Homo sapiens: one gene and its partners. The protein of the gene in region 2 interacts with the protein of the main gene of each other region in a biochemical or structural test. Each region holds a gene or a part of one and is shown on either strand. Other genes may lie near its edges.

Evidence for each region.
Region 1: the proteins of ARHGEF16 (region 2) and CKAP5 form a complex in vitro, tested with the Homo sapiens proteins (one study listed by BioGRID).
Region 3: the proteins of ARHGEF16 (region 2) and TAX1BP3 form a complex in vitro, tested with the Homo sapiens proteins (2 studies listed by BioGRID and IntAct, with this or other methods).

Annotation. Positions count from the first base shown.
Region 1 is NC_000011.10:46,842,646-46,852,219, reverse strand, and holds the start of CKAP5 (cytoskeleton-associated protein 5), read left to right. Parts: upstream 1-5,939; 5' UTR 5,940-6,000; intron 6,001-9,574. UniProt on the Homo sapiens protein: Binds to the plus end of microtubules and regulates microtubule dynamics and microtubule organization. Acts as a processive microtubule polymerase. Promotes cytoplasmic microtubule nucleation and elongation. Plays a major role in organizing spindle poles.
Region 2 is NC_000001.11:3,477,836-3,482,390, reverse strand, and holds the end of ARHGEF16 (rho guanine nucleotide exchange factor 16), read right to left. Parts: intron 4,517-4,555; coding exon 4,365-4,516; intron 3,968-4,364; coding exon 3,779-3,967; intron 2,875-3,778; coding exon 2,801-2,874; intron 2,580-2,800; coding exon 2,478-2,579; intron 1,944-2,477; coding exon 1,804-1,943; 3' UTR 1,278-1,803; downstream 1-1,277. UniProt on the Homo sapiens protein: Guanyl-nucleotide exchange factor of the RHOG GTPase stimulating the exchange of RHOG-associated GDP for GTP. May play a role in chemotactic cell migration by mediating the activation of RAC1 by EPHA2.
Region 3 is NC_000017.11:3,664,574-3,673,299, reverse strand, and holds the start of TAX1BP3 (tax1-binding protein 3), read left to right. Parts: upstream 1-4,721; 5' UTR 4,722-4,773; coding exon 4,774-4,812; intron 4,813-8,501; coding exon 8,502-8,621; intron 8,622-8,726. Other genes in the region: EMC6 (ER membrane protein complex subunit 6), read right to left, coding at 3,821-4,153. UniProt on the Homo sapiens protein: May regulate a number of protein-protein interactions by competing for PDZ domain binding sites. Binds CTNNB1 and may thereby act as an inhibitor of the Wnt signaling pathway. Competes with LIN7A for KCNJ4 binding, and thereby promotes KCNJ4 internalization.

The DNA of each region.
Region 1 (9,574 bases), on a different chromosome or scaffold from region 2:
TGGCGAAACCCCATCTCGACTAAAAATACAAAAATTAGCCAAGCATGGTGGTGGGTGTCTGTAATCCCAACTACTCAGGAGGCTGAGGCAGGAGAACCTGGGAGGCACAGGTTGCAGTGAGCTGAGATTGTGCCATTGTACTCCGGCCTGGGCAACAGAGTAAGACTCTGTCTCTAAATAAATAAATAAATAAATAAATAGTGGGCAAAGGACATGAACAAACACTTTCAAAAGAGATACAAGTGACCAATAAACATATGAAGAAATGCTCATCATCACTAATCATCAGAGAAATGCAAATCAAAACCATGAGATACCACCTTATACGAGTCAGAGTGGCTTTTGTTAAAAGGTAAAAATTTAATAGATGCTAGCAAGGCTGCAGAGGAAAGGGGACACTTGTACACTGTGGTGGGAATGTAAATTAATTCAGCCACTGTGGAAAGCAGTTTGGAGATTTTTCAAAGAACTAAAAGTTGAACTACCATTCGACCCAGTAATCCTATTACTGGGTATATACTCAAAGGATAAAAAATCATTCTACCAAAAGGACACATGTACCCATATATTCATTGCAGCACTATTCACAATAGCAAAAACATGGAATCAACCCTTGTGCCCATCAATGGTGGATTAAAGAAATGTGGTACATATATCATGTAAAACTATGCAGCCATAAAAAAAGAATGAAATAATGTCCTTAGCAGCAGCCTGGATGCAGCTGGAGGCCATTATCCGAAACAAACTAATGCTGAAACAGATAACCAAAGGTTGCACGTTCTCACTTAGAAACAGGGGCTAAACATTGGGTACACAAGGACATAAAGAAGGGAACGATAGACACTTGGGACTACTAGAGATGGGAGAGTGGGAGATGAGCAAGTGTGGGAGTTCAGTCAGGCTGGTGGGAAAATTTTAAGATGAAGTTATAAAATATAGACACAAATCTTCTTGGAAGGCCGGAAGGTTTTGCAAAAGTCTCAGGATAGGGTTATGGCTGAAAGCCGCCTAATCCTTACTTTGAGTAAATAGCTTAAAGTAGATACAAAGGAATGTAGAGTAGTTTATCTGAATAGCTTGTTTACTCATGTGGTCTTAAGACCAATCTTTGATCAACCGGGTGCACAACCGCAGGGGGTGGGGGCGGGGTTGTTGGCAACCAGGTCAATTACCCTCTAGCAGTGTTTACTCAAAACCTTTGTCATTTAATCTATACTGAATAAATGCAAGCTTCGCTGGCTGATGGGGCCGGCTGCTACTCTTTACAGCACCTTCCTTGGTGTCTGTGAGGGGCCCAGACCCTTAGCTGGAGTGACAGGCAGAATATCTGTGTTAGTGTACGTTATTCAACCGTTGTTGGGTCAAGGTCTGTGGGACAGACCCCGGCAAGCAGGGACTGATAAACTACTTACTGTTAGGTACTATGCTCACTACCTAGGTTCAATCATACCCCAAACCTCAGCATCACACAATATACCTTTATCACAAATCTGCACATGTATCCTCGATTCTAAAATAGAAGTTGAAAAATAAAATAAAATTACGGTCTTTCCAACCCCACTTCCCTATCCCTTTACCTAGTTTTATTCTTTTTCTTTTCCCACTGGACATATTGTCTAATAACATACTATATAATTTATTTATGTGTTGATTGTCTACGTTTCCTCACTATAGTGTGAGCACCACAAAGGGAGGAAATTTTGGGGAGTCTATTTTATCTACTGATCATTGCAGTGCCTAGAAGAGTCCCTCCACATAATAGGTGCTGATAAATATTTGTTGAATGAATAAATGAGTAGCATCAGACATCTAATACTCACCTTAAAGTAGGGCTGCACCTAAGTCATCCAAGACAAAAAGGGATTTTGTCATCTTGTTCTAAAACTCTCCAGGACCCGGACTGCACAAACATCCTTTGTTAAGCCAATTCCTGATTACCATCACACCCTCTCCTTAAATGTAATCTTCAGTTTATTTCTGGTAATATTTAAATAAAGTAAATATGCCAATGACCAATGACTGAAGAAAACTATTTCTGTATATCCTCACCAATTTATCCAAGGTTACCATGACCATATTGCTTTCATTCCTTTCTTCTTCTCCTACATGTGGATCTGTCTTCATTGGCCATCCTTTCACTCTCTCCAATCCCCCAATCTGCAGTCTCATTCACTCTATCAATGTGATTCCCAAATCTATATCATTGATTCTGCATCTATTCTTCCAGCTTCCATCGTGTATTTTCTAGGCCTACTCAGATGATTCCATTAGAATGCCTTATTGGTACCTAAAAGTGAACAGGTTGCAATTTAAATGCCTCACCTTCCCCTTGAGACTGGCTTCTCCTGACTTCCTACTTCCATTGGGCAATCAAATCCTGGAATTCTCTTTGACTCACCTCCCTAAATGGGACCCACCCTTGCCTTTGCACCTAATCTAGTCAGTTGCCAAATCTTTCATTCTTTCTTGAATCTGCTCTCATCCTCTCCACTGCTAACACCTCATATCATACTCCTAGCTGGGTTCCCAACTCTAAACCATTTTAGACAATCAAGCTAATTAATTTTCCTAAAGTACAACTCTGATTTTGCCACCCTCTTGCTCAGGTACCTTTAATAGCCCCCCCATTATCTACTTAATAAAGTACCAATTCCATACCCTGGGATTCAAGATCCTTTAGGAATCATTCCTGGCCGGGCACAGTGGCTCACATGTGTAATCCCAGCATTTTGGGAGGCTGAGGCGGGCGGATGGCCTGAGCTCAGGAGTTTGCGACCAGCCTGGGCAACAAGGTGAAACCCCATCTCTGCTAAAATACAAAAAAATCAGCCAGGTATGGCGGCTTGTGCCTGTAGTCCCAACTACTTGGGAGGCTGAGGCAGGAGAATTGCTTGAACCCAGGAGGTGGAGGTGGCAGTGAGCTGAGATCACGCCACTGCACTCCAGCCTGGGCGACAGGTGAGACTCCGTCTCAAAAAAAAAAGAAAAAGAATTGTTCTTAACCTTCTGTGTCAATCTTGTGTTCCACTACTTCCCAACAAAATTTCAGTCCTAAAATCAACCCCACATGTTCAGTCCCATACATACGATGCACTTTGCTGTTTCTGCGCCCTGACTCACACTTTCCCCACTACTCTCTGCTCCTTCTATGAAAGAAAAAAGAAACACACCACGTTAACAGTAAAAATTCATTTCCCTCCCAAGTCCCACTCCTATTAAGTTTCTTATAATTCCAGGAATGTTCTAACCATTTTCAGGCATGCCCTCAAACACACATACGTTTATAACCATATATAATAAAATCATTCCACAAGTTCTGCAACTTGCCTTTTTTTCAATTAATAAAATTTGTGCATGTTTCTGTTCCAGCACATAGATTAACCGCATTCTTTTTAACAGTTTCATAGTGTTCTATTGAATGGATATGTCATAATTTATGTAAAAGGTTCCCTGTTGATGAACATGTAATTTCCAGATTTTTTATTTTTTTTAGAGACAGCGTCTCACTCTGTCACGCAGGCTGGAGTACAGTGGCGTGATCATAGCTCACTGCAGCCTTGACCTCCCACACTCCAGCAATCCTCCACCTCAGCCTCCCAAAGCACTGGGATTACAGGCATGAGCCACCATGCCTGGCCTCCAGATTTATTTTTTTATTTTATTTTATTTTTATCTTAAGCAGTGCTGGCTGGGCACAGTGGCTCACAGCTATAATCCCAACAGTTTGGGAGGCCGAGGCGGGTGGATCACTTGAGGTCAGGAGTTCAAGACCAGCCTGGCCAACAGGTGAAACCCCGTCTCTACCAAAAATACAAAAAATTAGCTGGGCTTGGTGGCACATGCCTGTAATCCCAGCCACTTGGGAGGCTGAGATAGGAGAATCGCTTGATCCTGGGAGGTGGAGGTTGCAGTGAGCTGAGATGGTGCCATCGCACTCCAGCCTGGGCGAGAGAGCGAGACTTCATCTCAAAAGAAAAAAAAAGAAAAAAAAAAAAGGGCCGGGCACAGTGGCTCACGCCTGTAATCTCGGCACTTTGGGAGGCTGAGGCAGGTGGATGACCTGAAGTCAGGAGTTTGAAACCAGCTTGACCAACATGGTGAAACCCCATCTCTGTTAAAAATACAATAAAAAATAATTAGCCGGGCGTGGTGGCAGGTGCCTGTAATCCCAGCTACTTGGGAGCCTGAGGCAGGAGAATTGCTTGAACCCGGGAGATGGAGGTTGCAGTGAGCCAAGATCACGCCATTGCACTACAGCCCGGGTGACATGAGAGAGACTCTGTCAGAAAAAAAAAAAAAAAAAGCCGGGTGCAGTGGCTCACGCCTGTAATCCCAGCACTTTGGGAGGCCCAGGCGGGAGGATCACGAGGTCAGCAGATCAAGACCAGCCTGGCTAACACAGTGCAACTCCGTCTCTACTAAAACTACAAAAAATTAGCCAGGTGTGATGGCACGTGCCTGTAGTCCCAGCTACTCAGGAGGCTGAGGCAGGAGAATCGCTTGAACACGGGAGGCGGAGGTTGCAGTGAGCTGAGATTGCGCCACTGCACTCCAGCCTGGGCGACAGAGCGAGACTGTCTCAAAAAAAAAAAAAAAAAAAGCAGTATTGCAGTAAACATCCTTGTACATTTTTCTTTGCATACTTGCACAGATCTGTACGATAAATTCCTCATAGTGGATTACTGGGCCAGAACTAGATTATGTACATTTTAGTAACTGTCAAATTGTCCTCCTAAAGGTTTGTACCAATTATACTCTTACCAATATTGACTTTGAGTGTCCATTTTTCCAAATCTCTTTATATTTTTAAAAACAGAGATGGGGTCTTGATAGCAAGACCCAGGTTGGTCTTGAACTCCTGGCCTCAAGCAATCCTCCTGCCTCGGCCTCCCAAAGCGCTAGGATTACAGGCATAAGCCATTGCACCCAGCCTGTTTTTCCAAATCTTGACCAACCAAAGGCTGTTGAACTTTTTCATCTCTGCCAACTTGACAATGAAAAAACATGTAATTGTTTCATTTACTTTTATCCATCCTCTCTCCATCTTTTAGCCTGTTGGGAATCTACACATTCTTTAAATCCTAGGTTAAAAATTCATCTTCCTCACAGATCCTCCCCCATCAAATTTCTCCTGTCTCTAAGCATTTATAGCTTTTCATTTATACAGTTATTACACTGCTTTGAATTTTAGTGACTAGTCTGTATGTTATATTCCTCCAACCACTGTAGATTACAAATTCCTTGGAAGTAAGGACCTGAACTCATTCACAGAAACACTGAATGTAGAGCTAAGCTAAAATTCTGGAGATCATGTTAACCAAGCCTCTCGTTTTTATAAGGGAATATTAAGCATTTGCAGGATGCGTTACAGTTCACAAAGGCTTTTCTCAGACATTCTATTAGTTATATTAACTCCTCCATTAAATTGTAAGGGAAACATCGTTATCCCATTTTACAGATAAGGAAACAACTCCAGAAGATTTACTGAGAAAAGTGATTTACTCAGAACAGTTCCAAGGTCAGAATCCAGCATCCTGGCTTCATTCGCTGTTACTTCCACGACATCTCAGCTGCCTCTGGTTTCCCTCACAGCACTTAGCTTCACAATCTCTAGGGAATGAAATGACCAAAAAAAATTGTCGGGTGTTGACAGCAGCCTGAACATCTGTAATTAAATAAAGCAAACATGCTGACGACCAAGGATGCCCGGGTCTACACACATTCTTTCGCCTTTCTTTCTGGAGTCGGCAGACTTGCCCCCGGCAGCGACCAGCGTCCCCACCCGTGCAGGCGGCGTCTGGTCCAGAGGGAAACACGGCTGCGCGCGGCCCCTTTAAGGCTGCGGGCGGCGCGTGCCCACAGGCCTTTCAAATGGACCAATAAAAGTCCGATGGGCGGTCCGTCGAGGACCAATAAAGAACGAGGACACTGCGGGGTGTGCGGCGGCCCAAGCGGTTTCAAACGGCTTAGAGCAGGCCGCTTGGTTCTGACCCAGCTGAGGTGAGTGGTCGGTGGGCCTGCCCCACCCGCGAGGCCCTCGAGTGCAGGCATCGCGCGCGCAGAGGAGCCCCTGAATCCTGGGCGGCTGGAGGTCTCCAGACGCGCGCCCCACTTGCCCCACGAACCCGGCAGGTCTGAGGCGGCGAAGCGAGCCGGAGGCCGGGGGACCTGCGGCGGGCAGGGCCGGGGGCGTGGGCGCTCGTGTGCGGCGGAGGCCGGGGTTGGGCTCCAGGTGGCCAGAGCGCGCCGCAGCGTGGCGCGGGTGGCAGCGTCCGCGGGGCGCGGGCGGTGCAGGGCCGCGCCTGGCGGCAGCGATTTACCAAGACTAGGGCGGGGGCCCCGAGAGCCGGCCCTGCTAGAGTGCCTCTCGCGTAATTGTCAAGTGAATGAATAAGTAAGCGCCTACGAGGGCTGTGGTGGTTGCGAAGGGCCTTGTCGCCCTGGAGCAAGGACAGCGGCACCGGGGCCTGGCCGCACACCTGTGTCCCTGCTGGCTTGCTGCGATGTGAACGATTCCGATCATCCACCACCCCGCCCTTAACGACTGGCTTTCTCTCTCTCAACGTGTCGGGAGCGTTCTGGTGTCCTTCCAGCCCTGGAGGTGTTGGGGAACCAATACAATAGCCAGCAGTGTGGGTTGGGCCTTGCTACTTTAAGGTCGGGCTCGGTGAACTAGATTCTTACTTTTGAGCTCTCCCCTCTACTTGTAATCGTGGTAATTGTTGAGCAGGATTGAAATGCATTCCGTTGTGTTTCTTGGATAGAAAATGATGAAAGGGTTGTTGCCAGAGTGGCTAGTGTGTGTTAGAAAATATATTCGTGTTGATGAATCTTAACAATGAGTTTTTTATTCAGCATCAATAGAGGTTGAAGTGGTTTTTGCAGAACTTGCCCCAAATTTATGCGTGGCTCTAATTTAATTCTCATGGGACCAAGGCATCAAATCTTGGCCCAGAAATGCTGCCTGTCTTATGCATAATTATAGTAATTGAAAACTCATTTTTAGAAAGGTGAGCTCCTCCTTCCTCCATTTTCATCACCCTGAAAAGTCCTTCTTTTGACCTAAAGAGCCAATAAATTAAGCTAAGAATCTTTTGAAACTTTAAGAAATTGTAGAAGACTTTGACTTCTCTGAAGTGACTGGACAAACTGTAATGCTTTTACCAAATTTAATGATATAGATAAAGGTGAAATCAATTTATTTTGCAACCATAAGTTAAATCTAGTTGGTAAACTCATGTAAAAAAATTTTTAAATAAGATTTTAGGCTGGGCGCGGTGGCTGACGCCTGTAATCCCAACACTTTGGGAGGCCGAGGCGGGCGGATCACGAGGTCAGGAGTTTGAGACCAGTCGGGCCAACATGGTGAAACCCCGTCTCTCTCTCTCTCTCTCTACTAAAAATACAAAAAATGGCTGGGCGTGATGGCGGGCGCCTGTAATCCTAGCTACTCGGGAGGCCGAGGCAAGAGAATCATTTGAACCCGGGAGACAGAGGTTGCAGTGAGCCAAGATCCCGCCATTGCACTCTAGCCTGGGTGACAGAGCGACCCTCTGTCTCAAAAAAAAGAAAAAAAATTTTTTAAAAGGCTGTTCACTGAGGCAATGGCAAGCAAAGGTATTCCGTAACAATTAACATGCCTTTTACTTTATTCTCCATTACTTTAAAGTCTTGATCAGTTTTGAATTATGTTTGAATTATGAACAGTGGGTGTGGTAATTCCATCGCAGTCTTCTACTACTGACAGTTCAGTTTTAGCAGCACCTGTTTTTTTGGTGTTTTTTGTTTGTTTGTTTGTTTGTTTTTTACCTTCACGGTTTATTGTAAAGGATGCTACAAAGCATACAGATGAAGAGAGGCGTAGGGCTTGTAGGTATGGGAGAAGGGTGTGGAGCTCTTATGCTCTCATATGAAGTGTGTTTGAATATACCAACTCTCCTGTAAACTTTTATCTTAATTCCATCAACACTCACTTTCTTTTCCTTTTTTTTTTTTTTTAAGACAGAGTCTTGCTCTTTCGCCCAGGCTAGAGTGCAGTGGTGCGATCTCAGCTGACTGCAACCTCTGCCTCCTGGGTTCAAGCGATTCTGCCACCTCAGCCTCCCAAGTAGCTGGGACTTCTTGTGTGCACCACAATGCCCAGCTAATTTTTTGTATTTTTAGTAGAGACAGGGTTTCACTATGTTGGCCAGGCTGGTCTCGAACTCCTGACCTCAAATGATCCACCCGCCTCAGCTTCCCAAAGTGTTGGGATTACAGGTGTGAGCCACCACACCTGGCTAACCCTCACTTTTCTAACTGTAGCTTCTATTAGGACTTTATCAACAGGTTTTGTTTTTGCAATACTAGGTAGGGGAAGTGTTCCCCAGCCAGACATAATATCCATTCCTAATAAAACACATTTACATATAGGAGACACAGCTTCCAACTTTCATAGTTCTGTCAACACTTACATCTTTGTGTTCTCTCAATTTTTTTTTTTTTTTTTTTTCAATCAGATCTCACTCTTTCGCCCTGGCTGGAGTGCAGTGCTGCTATTATGGGTCACTGCAGCCTCCACCTCCAGGGCTCAGGTGATCCTCCCATCTCAGCCTTCCGGTAGCTGGGACTACAGACGTGCATCACCATGCCTGGCAAATTTTTTTAGTTTTTGTAGCGATGGGGTTTTGCCTTGTTGCCCAGGCTGGTCTCGAACTCCTGGGCTCAAGGGATCCTTTTGTCTCGGCCTCCCAAAATGCTGGGATTACAGGCGTGAACCACTACGCCTGGCCTTCTCTTAATCTAACTGTAGCCCTGTTCGGGGCTTCACCAATGGCTCTTGGTACTACTGTACCTGGGGCTTCCATATGAAGGAGTCCCAGGAATTTCTTTTTGCCACTCCCTGACCATTTTACCTACTTATATACAGAAGGCTTGGGGTCCCCAGCAGGTGGTTGAGCCAAGAGACCCTTGCCCATTTGCCAGTCTTTATCTTGACTCATCTACCTATTGTTTCCACAATTTCAGATCAGATTTCTCATTGTAATCTGCCTCCTGACTTACAATTTCTCCAAACTGGGGTAAATATAGCAAACTTGTTTGGAACCCCTTAATGGTGGGAGACCAGCAGGGTCTCCCTTTGGCTCCCAGGCTAGTCTTGAACTCCTGGGCTCAAGTGATCATCCTGTCTTGGCCTCCCAAAGTGCTGGGATTATAGGCATGAGCCACCACACCCTGCTACCTTACTTCTTTTTTTTTTTTTTTTTTTTTTTTTGAGACGGAGTCTTGCTCTGTCACCCAGGCTGGAGTGCGGTGGCGCGATCTCGGCTCACTGCAAGCTCCGCCTCCCAGGTTCACGCCATTCTCCTGCCTCAGCCTCCCAAGTAGCTGGGACTACAGGCGCCCGCTACCAAGCCCGGCTAATTTTCTGTATTTTCAGTAGAGATGGGGTTTCACCTTGTTAGCCAGGATGGTCTCGATCTCCTGACCTCGTGATCCGCCCGCCTCGGCCTCCCAAAGTGCTGGGATTACAGGCGTGAGCCACCGCGCCCGGCCTACCTTACTTCTTAATAACCATTTAAAAATTTCCACCTTC
Region 2 (4,555 bases):
GCAGTGAGAACCGCCCGGAGGCTGCAGGGCAGCTGGGTTTACACGAAACTGCTGCCCCCTGGCTACCCGCCCCCCCGCCCCCCAACACACACGCACACACAGAGACAGGCATGCTAGCACACATGCACACACCACCTGCCAACACACATGCCCTGCCCTGGCTGCCAGTTTGCTCCCACAGGAGCTCCAGGAAAAGCCCAGGGAGTAACCAGTTCACAGGCAGGACAGCGGAGGCTGGAGATGCCACGCTGGGCGTGGAGGAGCTGGCCCCATCTCAGGGGATTCTGCTCCCAGGTGCCTCCTCTTTCCCAGAGCCCTGGCTGTGCCCCGCCCTGCGAGGCGGCCGCTGACCAAAGCCCTGCCCAGGACAGTCCTGCGTGGGCTCCGAGCCTGGACTGGGCCATTGCTGCTGCCCAAGGCCATGGAGGTGACCGGGAGAGGAGCTGGCCCTCCTCGCACTGCACGGCCCTCCAGACCTCGCCTCCTCCCCTAAGCCCTGGTCCAGCAGGCGGGGGCTGGGAGCAGCGTGTTCTTTCAGCCCACCCCACCTCTCATGCACCAGGTCCTGCAGCTGCCCCAAGCCTGGGAGGGGTGGAGGGCAGTCTCCTATCACCATTTCTGGTTGGCATATGGGGTAGATGCACCCCTGACTTTCCTGCAGAAGCCAGGGCCCCAGACCCAGGAGGATCAGGGCAGATTCTCAGGTGTATGCTGGGTGCTCCCTCCCTGAGGACAGCATTACCCAAGCCCACAAAGGCAACGGGCATTGGCGTCGGACACAGGAGGGCTGGTGGGGGCTTCCTGGGACAGAGAGGACCAGTCCTCCTCTTGCTGTGCCACCCCAGGTCAGCCGACTGGCTCAGGGACTGCCTCTTCTGCCTGCAGCTCCCAGGACGAGATGGCTGGGAGGAAAAACTGGGAGGGAGGTGGGGCCTGTCTCCAACCCTGGGGACACTGCAGAGGGATCCCCAAAAGCTCTACTGAATCCCGGAGTCCTCTAAACCACTGGCCAGCCTGGGCCCTGCAAGGCGCAGCTGTGCCGCCCCTGGCTTCTCAGTACACGATCAGGGGCCGCTGGCCCTGCTCCAGTGCTCCAGCCGGTGGGCAGACTGGCCACACCAGGGGCGAGCTTGGGGCGACCACACATGACACGGCACCCAACACAAGGGGGCCATGCACAGGGGGCCTGGTGCCGGCCCGCGGCATCCTGAGTATGTCCCTGGAAAATGTGTGGCCACGGTCTTTGCCTGGGCTCAGAGTCACTGTGAAAATCCAGGTTCTTAAGAAATAACTTTAATGTATTTAGAAACCTCAAAACCGAAATCTCCCTGCCGGGTCCCCTCCCTCCGGCCGGCCCCTTCTCAGAACGTGGGGCACTCCTGGGCACTCAGGGCCCTTCTTGTCCCACTCAGGGGTAGGAAGGGCATAGGAGGAGACCTCGCATTGCCCCCAATAATCGCTATTGGTGCCTCCTGTGCCCATCAGTCCAGGTGGAGTTGCCCCCTGGGTGCAGTGGGGAGGTGGGGCCCAGCAGCTGAGGGGCCCAGCCAGCCAACGGGAATAGGCTGGGCTCCCTGGGACACGGTGTGGCCCCCTCGAGCTTGCCTGGGGGTGCCTCTCTGGGGACATGTGATCTTCCTTCCGTGAAGTGTCTGGAGCCCGGCACCACAGCCACAGGCTCTTGGGAAGCCCCAGGGAACCATGCTGGGTCCTTGAGACCAGCTCCCCACGCTCTCTAGAGCCAGGCACGACCACTTGCTGATTGGAGACAGGCTGTGCTGCCGCCGGCTGGCCTCGCCAGGGCTACACGTCCGTCTCCACCCGCAGACGCTCCATCCTGCGGACATTGCCCTCCACGGCCACACGGCTGGTGATGAAGCGGGCAAAGTCCTCGGGGAACCATCCCGTCTCTCCGTCCCGGAGCCTCTCGCCATAGAGCCACCCTGAACCCGGATAGGGGTGGGAGGGAGGTGAGGGGAAGGCCGTGGGTCCCCCGGCCCCTCTGAGCTGCTATGCCTGAGCACACCAGGGCCAGGCTTCTCCTAGAACTGACCACCTGCTCCTGCTCAGAGCAGACAGCTGCTGAGGCCTTGCTCATGGTCACCGGGCACCCAGCCCCTGCTCAGGTGCTCGCCACTGAGAAGGGTGCTGGGCTGAGCACACCCCACACAGCGCTGCCCGGCATGAGGAGGAGCCCTGCCTGCCCTCTGCAGGCTCGTGCTGGGCCTGGCTGAGCGGGGATCCCCTGGGAGGGCAGAGACACCTCCTCCTCCCCACGTGGGACACAGTGACCATGAACCTGCTTTTGATTCTGAGGTTTGGGGATGTGGGAGTGCTCCCTTTGAGGAAGCCCTCGAGAGAGGGTGAGCACATGGTCAGCCTGCAGCCCGGCATGCTCTGGACCTGGCCAGGCTGGACGCTGACTCACGCCCGCCTGTCCGTTCCCACCCATCTGTGCCCAACGCCCCTGCACTCACCATCCTCCTGCTGCAGAACCAGGACCACGTCCGCCTGCTGCAGTGTGACCTCGTCTGCTTGCTTCGCGAAGAAGGCCTTGGTGATCTCCACCTGGGGCAGGTCTGCATAGGGCAGTGGCCATCACAGGGCTGTCGGGAGGCATGGGCCAGGCTCCACTCCCCAACGGCCTCCAGCAGACACATCCCCCGGGGCCGGGGCACCCCATCCCCCGACTGCCAGGCCCCAGCACAAGGCCAGGTGCCAGGCTCACTTGGGCTACAGTGGGGGCCAAAGTGCCAGCCACGGCAGAGGGCCAGCCCTGCAGGCCCCAGCCCGCACTCACCTCCTTTGCTGGAGAGGCCCTGCCACTGTCTCTCACTGTGTGTGAGCGCCACGATCCACCGTGCCCGGTCACTCCTGGGGACCAGAGACAGCATGAGCCAGGCCTGGAGACCGATCCTGCCCGTCTGATGTTCCTTGACTTCTGACAGCCACCCATGGGGGCCGTGGCAAGGAGATGGGGGTGGTGGGGGTGGGCAGGAGTGGCTGGGCAGACTGTGCCAGGCAGGCTAACCCCCAAGTCACCCCAGCCCCAGGTCACAGAGTTGGGTAGTGGCCACACACCCAGACCCCAGCCTGCTGGACCTGAGGCCACCCCGTTTCCTGGCACTGGGCCCCAGCTCCCTGCCCCCTCCGTTTGCTGTGACAGACTCAGCCTCAGCATCCTCATCTGGAAACGGCCCAGAGCTGTCCTCAGTCAAGACGAGCTGAGAGGGAATATGGAGACTGGCGCACCTGTGTGCCTGGCTTCCACGGGGGGCCCGCAGAGACTCCATCAGTGCCCCCTCCCATTCTGAGTGCCAGGACCACCCTGCTGTCTGAACTGGCCCCTACCGGCCAGGGTCGCTGCACCCCAGCATCACTGCTGTCCACCTGCAGCTGTGCCCTCGGGGCCTCAGGGCTCTCCTGCCTCGGGGCCTCTGCTGAGCAACCCCACACTCCGGCCCCACCTCCCTCTGCTCACATGGGCTAAGCTTTCCTCACGGCACCCCCCGCACCCCACCCCCCACCTCGTTTCCTCCCTTGTTCCCACTCCTGGTGGCCCAACTGTTGGTGCGTCCCCTCCCGGGAACATAAACTCCATGAGGACAAGGCCATTTCTGTTGTTTCTGGCTCTACCTCAGCACCTACAGCAGGGCCAGGTGCACGGTGGGCGTTCAGAGCCAGCCATGCAACAGCGAGCAAGGCAGGGGGACAACCCGGTCCCCATGGAGCTAATGTGCCTGTGGCCTGGGAACAGCCCTCCCGGGAGCCCACTTACGCGGAGTCCGAGGAGAGCAGGAGCTGCTCCTGGCGGCCCTCGCTGTTGCGAAGCAGGGTCACCTGGAAGGGGTGGGGCACGGAGGAGCTACGGTTGCCGCCCCCGGGCAGAGGGAGCTCAGACGGCTCTATCTTCTCCACCTGGATGTGGTTCATCTGGGCGTAGTCCTGGACCATGTAGCTCTCCTCGCTGTGGAGACACGGGCAGTCGGTGGGACGGTCCCACCCAGCTCCTACCCAGTGCTGCTGGGCTCCCGTCCAGGTCCCACCCGGCTCCCCTGCAGTGGTGGGGAGGCAGCCACGGACGGGCTCCAAGAGTTCCCGCGTCCCACAGAACAGAGGCCATGGCTTTCGAGTCCTCCTCGTGGCTATCACCGGCAGACCCAGGTCTGCAGAGGAGGTCAGAGGCTGCACAGCGAGCGCCACCTGCCCCCGAGTGTCACGTAGAGCATGTGCCGAGTGGAAGCCGCGCCTCGGCTCTGAGGTCAGAGGGGCTCAGGGCCAACTCCCTGTACCCTCCTGCCCCAGGGCCAGCGGTCCAGTGTCCATGGAGTGGGGCTCCCCACACCCTCCTGCCCTAAGGCCACCTCTTCTTCTTGGTCACAACCAGGACATCGTTGAACAGGAAAAGGTAGCACGTTGGCCGGCTGGCAATTTTTCGAAAAAGTCCGGTTTCTTCCACTAAGAACAGCTCTCCGCGCTTCAGCAGCCACCGGGAGGCAGAGATCAGTGGGAGGGACTGGGGGGACAGAGCCGGGAGGCGGAGATCAGTGCGAGG
Region 3 (8,726 bases), on a different chromosome or scaffold from region 2:
GGGACCTGCCCAAGATATGTATTCTCTGACACTCTTATTTGGTCATAAAACAATAAATGGTGTCAATTTCAAACGTGTCCTGATTTTTTTCTCTTCATGTTTACCCATCTTTTTTTTTGAGATGGAGTCTCGCTCTGTAGCCCAGGCTGGAGTGCAGTGGCACGACCTCGGCTCATTGCAGCTTCTGCCTCCCAGGCTCAAGTGATTCTTCTGCCTCAGCCTCCTGAGTAGCGGGGATTACAGGCGTGCACCACCATGCACGGCTAATTTTTTTTGTATTTTTAGTAGAGACGGGGTTTCACCATGTTGGTCAGGCTGGTCTTGAACTCCTGACCTTGTGATCCGCCCACCTCAGCCTCCCAAAGTACTGGGATTACAGGCAACAGCCACCGCACCTGGCCCATTTTTACCCGTATTTTAAAGGAAAATGTAAGAAGGCAAGATCAAAAGAGGCAGACACAAGAAACAATTAGTAAGCAATATATTCCTCATCTTGCAAAGAAATTCAAATTATGGAAATGCTTTAAATGAGCAACTATTAAAATTATAGACTAGGAAGGAACTGATAAAACTGGTACTTTTCATTCAAGTAGTGTAATCTAACACAACTCTGGAAGTAACTTGGAACCAAATTTTTATCCTCTGCTGTAGGAACTTATTAATTTTCTCAAAACAATATAAACGCAGACATTCATTGCAGTATTTTTTATAGTAGTGAACATTTCAAACTTACTGCCCAACAATAGGGAAATGGTTAAGTACATCAGCTCGCTTATCCCTCTTCCTTTTTTCTCCTCTCCCACCAGGCTGAGGACTCCCTCTGCTTCTCCCTTACACCAGGAATGAACCTTTCCTTCCCACTCAGAGGAGGTTCTGAGAGGACTGAGGTGGGCAAACCACTGAGGATCTTCAGTGGGGGCAGAGAAAGGGCTCACTGAGATGGGGGGCAACGCTATGGCCTCAGCTTCTCCTTGGCGTCGTGTGCATGTGTTCCTGAAGCCGAAACGGAATTTAACAGGTCTGGGTCCCAGATCCATTTCCATGACTGGCCATGGGCTATCTATGATCTGTCAAAAGGGGACTTGGATTCAAGCTCTCAGATCCCCTTCCAATCTAAAACAGATTCTTTTTTTAAAAAAAATCCAAATGTGATTACGTCACTTCAGACTAAAAACTTCCAAAGGCTTCCCCCATTTGCTCTGAGGATCAAGGCCAGGGCAAATGGGAGCTCACTGCAGCCTCAACCTCCTGGGCTCAAGTGATCTTGATCTTCCCATTCCAGCCTCCTGAGTAGCTGGACTACAGGCGCATGTCCCCACACCCATTACTGCCCTCCATGATCTGGTCTGGGTCTACCCTGTGGCCTCTTCTCTCACTCTCTAAATACAGTCACATTCCTTCCTGCCCAATGGCCTGGAAACATGCGCTTTCCTGAAGGTAACTCCTTCCCCACACTTGCCTATGTTATTCAACTTTTGGGTTTCAGATGTAATGTTATTTCCTCAGAGAAGACTTCCTTGACCTCCATATACCCCAACTTGGGCTAGGTCTGCTATGTCCTCTTCATAGTACTCACCATGATTTAAGTATTTCTGAAGTTAGGTGATGCTGGTTTCCCCAGTTAACCATAAATCCAATGAGCACCATCATTTTCATTACTGTAATTTCTTTTTTTTTTAGACAGGGTCTCGCTGTTGCCTAGGTTGGAGTGTAGTGGCAAAATCGTGGCTTACTGTGGCCTCAACCTCCCGGGCCCAGGTGATCCTGATCCTCCCACCTCAGCCTCCTGAGTAGCTGGGACTACAGGCACATGCCACCACATCTGGCTAATTAAATGTTTTTTTGTAGAGATGGGCATCTCACTATGTTGCCCAGGCTGGTCTTGATCTCCTGGGCTCAAGCCTTGGCCTCCCAAAGTGCTGAGATCACAGCAGGAGCCACTACACTCAGGCAATTACCGTCATTCTAATGCAATATTTATTCCTCAATTAAACAAATGCATTTTATTCTTTTTTTTTTGAGAGGGAGTTTCGCTCTTGTTGCCCAGGCCGGAGTGCAATGGCATGATCTCGGCTCACCGCAACCTCTGCCTCCCAGGTTCAAGAGATTCTCCTGCCTCAGCCTTCCTAGTAGCTGGGATTACAGGCCTGTGCCACCACACCCGGCTAATTTTGTATTTTTAGTAGAGATGGGGTTTCTCCATGTTGGTCAGGCTGGTCTCGAACTCCTGACCTCAGGTGATCTGCCCACCTCGGCCTCCCAAAGTGCTGGGATTACAGGCATGAGCCACCGTGCTCGGCCACAAATGCGTTTTATTCTAAAATAACCCTCCTGACAAGAAAGGATCATGGATTAACACATGGAGGTGTTTACACCCTAAACCTGCCCAAAGTTCAACTTCAATGTCCAAACAATTTTTGTGTTTTTTTTGAGATGGAATCTTGCTGTCACCCAGGCTGGAGTGCAGTGGTATGATCTTGGCTCACTGCAACCTCCACCTCCAGGGTTCAAGCGATTCTCCTACCTCAGCCACCCAAGTAGCTGGGATTACAGGTGCCCACCACCACGCCTGGCTAATTTTTGCATCTTATTTTTAGTAGAGATGGGGTTTCGCCATGTTGGCCAGGCTTGTCTCAAACTCCTGACCTCAGGTGATCTGCCTGCCGTCGGACTCCCAAAGTGCTAGGATTACAGGCGTGAGCCACTGTGCCCAGCCTAAATGTCCAAACAATGTTTAATCTTCCCTAGACATATTCTAAAAAATACAGCTTGACTTTATTTTTTCTTATGGAAAGGACTGTCACTAAATGAAATGGAACTAAAATGACACCATATATACCTGAAAGTAGTGGTTAGTGGGAGGGAACGCTGGCCTGTGAAAGGTACACCCAGCAAACATATCAAGAGCAAATTAAGAGACCTGCATTTGAATCCTGGCTCTGTCTCTTCCTAGCTGTATCTCCTCTGGGAGAAGTATTTAACCTCTCTGAGCCTCAGGTTCCTTACGAGGGAGCTAACAATAACATCTACCCTGTAAGGTTATTGCTAAAATTAAATGAGAGGATCGGTGTAGAGTAGAAGTCACAATGCCAGCATATAGGGAACTCTTTTTTTTTTTTTTTTCCCTGAGAGACAGACGGAGTCTTGCTCCATCACCCAGGCTGGAATGCAGTGGCACGATCTCGGCTCGCTGCAACCTCTGCCTCCAGGGTTCAAGCGATTCTCTTTCCTCAGCCTCCCGAGTACCTGGCATTGCAGGCGCGCGCCACCACACCCGGCTAATATTTATATTTTTAGTAGAGACGGAGTTTTGCCATGTTGGCCAGGTTGGTCTTGAACTCCTGACCTCAGGTGATCCGCCCACCTCGGCCTCCCAAAGTGCTGGGATTACAGACATGAGCCACCGTGCCCGGCCCAGGGAGCTCTTAATACATATTAACTGTTACTGCTTCTTAGGATGTTAATAAGTTCTTTCCTTATGTAGGCCCTTAGGGCCCGTTTCTGAATGGCCTATGTGTAAATACAAGGACTTAACACAAGGCTATGGCCCATTCCTTGCTCTCCAGGAGTCAAATCTCGGCGATTTTGCATCAGTGGCAGCCTAAGCGTTACAGCAGGAAAGAACTCCACAAAGTGTCTCACGCTTCATTTAATCTGAAGAATATTACAGGCTCTCCGTCTTCAGATATAAATTATTTATAACGTTACAGAACAAGCAGCGAATTCAACCACTTAAGAACTAAGGAAGTCTACATGGTGTTAATTGCTGGCCACAGTCCTCCCGATCTGGTTTTTTAAAAAAGTCCCCCGGGCCCCCATTTCAGTAGACGTGCACCATGCCGTAGAGGAACGTCCAGAACAGGACGTAGGTGAAGAGGCCCCCGATGAGGCCTCCTGTAAAGAGAGGTCTCCGTGATTTGAAATATTTGTTCCACCTCCTTCCCGCCTTGAGAATGAGGAGCAGGGAGAGCAGGACGGAGGCGAGCAGGTAGAAGATGAAGCCGTAGAGGCCGGTGAGGCCGAGGATGCCGGCCGTGGCCCCCGACAGCGCTGACACCGAGGTCCGGCAATAATCCAGGACGGCGGCGTTGCCCCGCACGGCCGCCTCGCTGATGAACGGCGGCCCTTCCCGCTTGGCCACCACCGCGGCCATCGCACCAGCCCGGGCTCGGCCTCTCGCTTTCTCGCGGAACAACGCGGAGCTGCGGAGAAAACCAAGTTACAAGTGGCGCCCGGAGCTCGGTGAGTTGGGTTCACGCCGCCCCCTCCCCCTGGAGCTTCCGAGACCTGGCACCAGTCCTGGGCCTCGGATCTTCCAAAGACGCCGAGGAGATTGAGGGTCCGGGCCGGCCGGGAGGTGGTGGCGCGTCTGCGTTCCCCGGCCACGGTGGCCCAGTTACCTGGAACACGGCGCCGGACACACTACTTAGCGTTCCCTCAGACGGGCAGTGGAAGAAATGCCCGCGGCGCCATCTTGCTCGGAAGACTGCCGGGAGGTCTCGGGCTGCGCACGCGCCCAGATCCCGCCCCGCCCTCCGCGCCTGCGCCGTGGGCGCCCCGGACACGCTCCGCCCTCTGCCCGCTTTTCTGCGCACGCGCAGGGACTTCCGAAAGCGGAGTGGCGCTCCGGCCAGTGATTGGCTGGAGGTTTGTTAACTATTCATGAGGGGGCGGGCCGAGCGGGGCGGCCTTTGTTAAGCAGCGAGGGCGCGACCGCGGGTACTCTGCTGCCGGCTTCTCGGAGCGGCGCTGGGCGACCAGAGCAGGGTCGAGATGTCCTACATCCCGGGCCAGCCGGTCACCGCCGTGGTGGTGAGTGCGCTTGCGCGGGCTCCTCCTCGTCTTGGCCTGACCCCACCTCGCAGAGCGGGAAACGGACACCCCAAGCAGGTTGACAGAGCATCGAACCCGGGGCTCCTGCGAACCGGCGGCAAGGGCTCGGGTCCCCGCTTTGCCGGAGCGGGCCGCAGTTCCCCCAGCCACGAAACAGGGATGGCCGGGACCCGAGAGCCTCCCGAGACCCTGGACAGAGCCCAGACTGCGTGCGCAGGGCGGGGAGGGCCACGGGGAAAGGCCTGGCTGCAGGAGCCTGGAAAAGCGCCCCCTTCCCGGGCCTCCGTGTCCCCAGACGGGGAGCTGCTGGGGGCGGGCGCCGATCCCGACGTCCATGAGTCGCAGCCTCTGGAATGAGGAAATGCTTCCTCCGCTGCAGCCTGCGCCGCCGCCCGGAGGGAGATCTGGGGGTGGGGCTCTCCCGAGCCTGCCGTGGCAGCCCCTGCCCCCTTCCTGTCCAGCCTTGCTCCTCCAACCCACTCGCCGCCTGGTCCAGGGTGGACGCTCGTATAGCTGCGATGAGCGTTTCCTCTTCGAACTTTTCCTGGGTCTCCAGCCCTTAAGGCAAAAAAGTCCAGGCCTCCCTCCTGGCACTTGAGTCCTGAGTAGACCCTCCGGGGGCTAGCCTAGGCCCCTGGCCGCCCTCTGGCTTGTTTTAGGTGCTGGGTGCTATTAGACTAGGCAGAGGGAGGAAGGAAGGCTGGGACGTTAGACTCAGACGCCGGTGTCACAGAGGGACACAACCCTATGACAGAGGTGGGGAGTCCCAGAGAGAAGTGCTCAGCCAGAAAAGACCACCTCAGGAAAGACTCAGGTCTCCTGCCTACCTCCCGACAGCGTTCAGAGAATGAGAAGAAATGCCTGCCCGGTGGGCAGTAGGTCAAGCGAAAGTCCCCGCCCTGGAGCCATAGGGACTGGGTGTGTTATCTCAGTTGGGTGTGCTGGAGAAGCTCCAGCAATCAGGTGGGTGGAGGCAGAGAAGCCACTGATAAAGGCGACAAGTGAGGCTGAGCTTAGAGCACTGGCTCAGGCCTGGGCCAGGAGGAAACATTGCTGGACCAGCTGACAGCTGTCCTAAGCTTCACCCTCCCTGCACCAGCTTGACTTTTTTTTTTTTTTTTTTTTTGAGACAGTCTTGCTCTGTCGCCCAGGCTGGAGTACAGTGGCGCGATCTCGGTTCATTGCAACCTCCGCCTCCTGGGTTCAAGCGATTCTCCTGCCTCAGCCTCCCGAGTAGCTGGGATTACAGGCATGCACCAGCATGCCCAGCTAATTTTTGTATTTTTAGTAGAACGGGGTTTCACCATGTTGGCCAGGCTTGTCTTGAACTCCTGACCTCTGGTGATCCACCTGCCTCAGCCTCCCAAAGTGCTGGGATTACAGGCGTGAGGCACCACACCCGGCCCAGCCTGGCTTTTTTAGATCCCTACCTGCCCCAGAGAGAAGGCACCAGGTTTGCTCTTTAGGTAGAAGGGGGGCAGGGACAGGTGAGGAGCTACAGCAAGCCACCTTCTGCGTGACCTCACCCAGCAAATCAGTGACAGCCCTGTCTCCCAACCCAAGGGCCTGTAATCTTCTGACCGTGCCGGCAGAGCAGGCCTGGAGGAGCTCAGTTTGGGGCATGAGGACCCAGGCACAGTAGGCCTCATGCTTCCTGCCCCCCTCCCTCACGCCATAACTGGTCCCAGGGCCTTCCCCAAAACTGCAGGCCCATGCCCCCTAATTCTGGTAACACCAGGAACGTGCCTGGACATGGTGTGTATGGTCTGGCCTCTCCCTCGAGTCTTGGATTGGGGATGGGTTTGGGCAGGCTCACTCCCCAGTCCCCACCCTCTCCCATGTAGAATCCTGAGAATATTAAAGACATTTAGGCCATTCTTCTGAACCCTGGCTCCATAGATCCATCTGCCTTCTGGACACCTGCCCCGCAGCTCCTGGCACTCCAACCTAACCTGCTCCTCCTCCTCCTGGGTCCCCATCTGAATAATGTGTGTTCAGCCAGGCACGGTGGCTGGGTGCTCCTCTTGACTCCTCTCCTCCATGAGTGGTCCCTAAGTCTGTAGATCTCCATTTTCAGGTAGCTCCATGTCCCCCGGCCTCTGCACCTTGCTTTTGTGAGATGTCCGTTCCTCTACTGATTACCTGAGTGGTCATTCTAGCAGCAAACCTGACCATGCCCTACCCTACTCCGTTCCTGAGAACTCCAGTGGGTTCAGGATCAAGGTCAGGCTACCCATCACCCCCTCAAAGCCTGGTGCAAATAATCCTCCCTTTGGGAAACTTCTTTAGGTCTAGTCTAGATTGTGGTCTTCTGCTTTTTTCTTTTCTCCTTCCTGTTAAAACTTGACTTTGGGAGTGATCTGGTCTGGCTCCCAGCATCTGCTGACTGGACGGCGCTTGCCAAGGGCTTTGAAAAGAACCTGGCACAGTTGGGGACCATAGCCCCAGAGCATGGTGGGAACACCCCAGAGCATGGTGGGAATGCCCCAGAACACTCGTTTCTGCACAAGAGCAGGGTCTGGGGCTTAGGGAGACACCCCTGCTCCCCTTCCAGGACGGGATCTGGCCCCAGCCTTACACTTTCAGCCTCATCTCGCCTCCCAGTTCTGTGTCCTGCACTGGACACTCCAGTCTCACGAACACGTATCCACGGCACCCTGTGCGCTGGTCCCCGTGGCCGGCAAGCCCTTCCTCTCCTTTCTTTTTTTTTTTTTTTTTTTTTTTGGAGCCCAGAGATCCTTTATTTTTTTTTGTTTAACACCTATTATGCCATGAATTCATAGGGAATAGGTTCCAGCAGCTCAGGCGCCTTCCCGTTGGTTCTCACAAAGTGTGCTTCCCTGGGTGGAGCAGGCTGGTGCTTTAGTTGAACCCAGGTACCTTTCTCTTTGGCTTCTTTCTTTTTCTGATCATTTTCCTTCACGCGTTCCAGGAAGCTATCTCGGCTCTTAGAGTGCTTTATGTGCTCAATACGCACATTAATTCTCTTGGCAAGAATCTTGCCCTTAACTTGTTTGTTTACAACAATGCCAACAGCATGCTGGGGAACATTGTAGACTCTTCCAGTTTTGCCATGGTAACCCTTGTGGGGCATTCCTTTTTGAACAGTACCCATTCCCTTGATGTCTACAGTATCACCTTTCTTATAGATTCGCATATATGTGGCCAAAGGAACATCTCCATGTTTTCTAAAAGGCCTAGAGAACATATATCCGGTGCCTCTCCTCTTTCCCTTTGTGTTCGTCATTTTGGCGAATTACTGGAAGATGGCGGTTCCGGCCGAAAGGAAACCCCTTCCTCTCCTTTCTATGCAAGTTTGATCTCTGCTTTTCCAGAGCACCTCCTGTGAGACGGGCTTCCCACCTACAGAAGCCACAGCACCTGGACTCTTGGGCCAGCAGGGGCTTCCACCACATGTTGACCAAGACTAGTGCCTAAGACTAACAGGGGAAGTGGGGACAGGTTGAGGACACAGGGCTGTGTGGGTGGATCAATGTGGCCAAGTTCTGAGTGCCAGCTCCTCAGCCTCCCAGGCTGGTGAGCAGCTGGATTCCTGCAGGGGCCTGGGACCCAGCCCCTTGTCATGGCTCTGAGGCTGCTGCTGGGAACACCCACCAGCCTAATTCTCCAACCACCCACTTCTCTCAACTGGCTTTTTTCTTTGCCAGCAAAGAGTTGAAATTCACAAGCTGCGTCAAGGTGAGAACTTAATCCTGGGTTTCAGCATTGGAGGTGGAATCGACCAGGATCCTTCCCAGAATCCCTTCTCTGAAGACAAGACGGACAAGGTGAGGGGGTCTGGGGTCCTGGGACCGCTCCATGGGGCACAGGGGCCTGAGATGGTGGGTCTCTGCTTCCTGGGCCTGCATGGAAGGAACAGACTTCATCTCTCA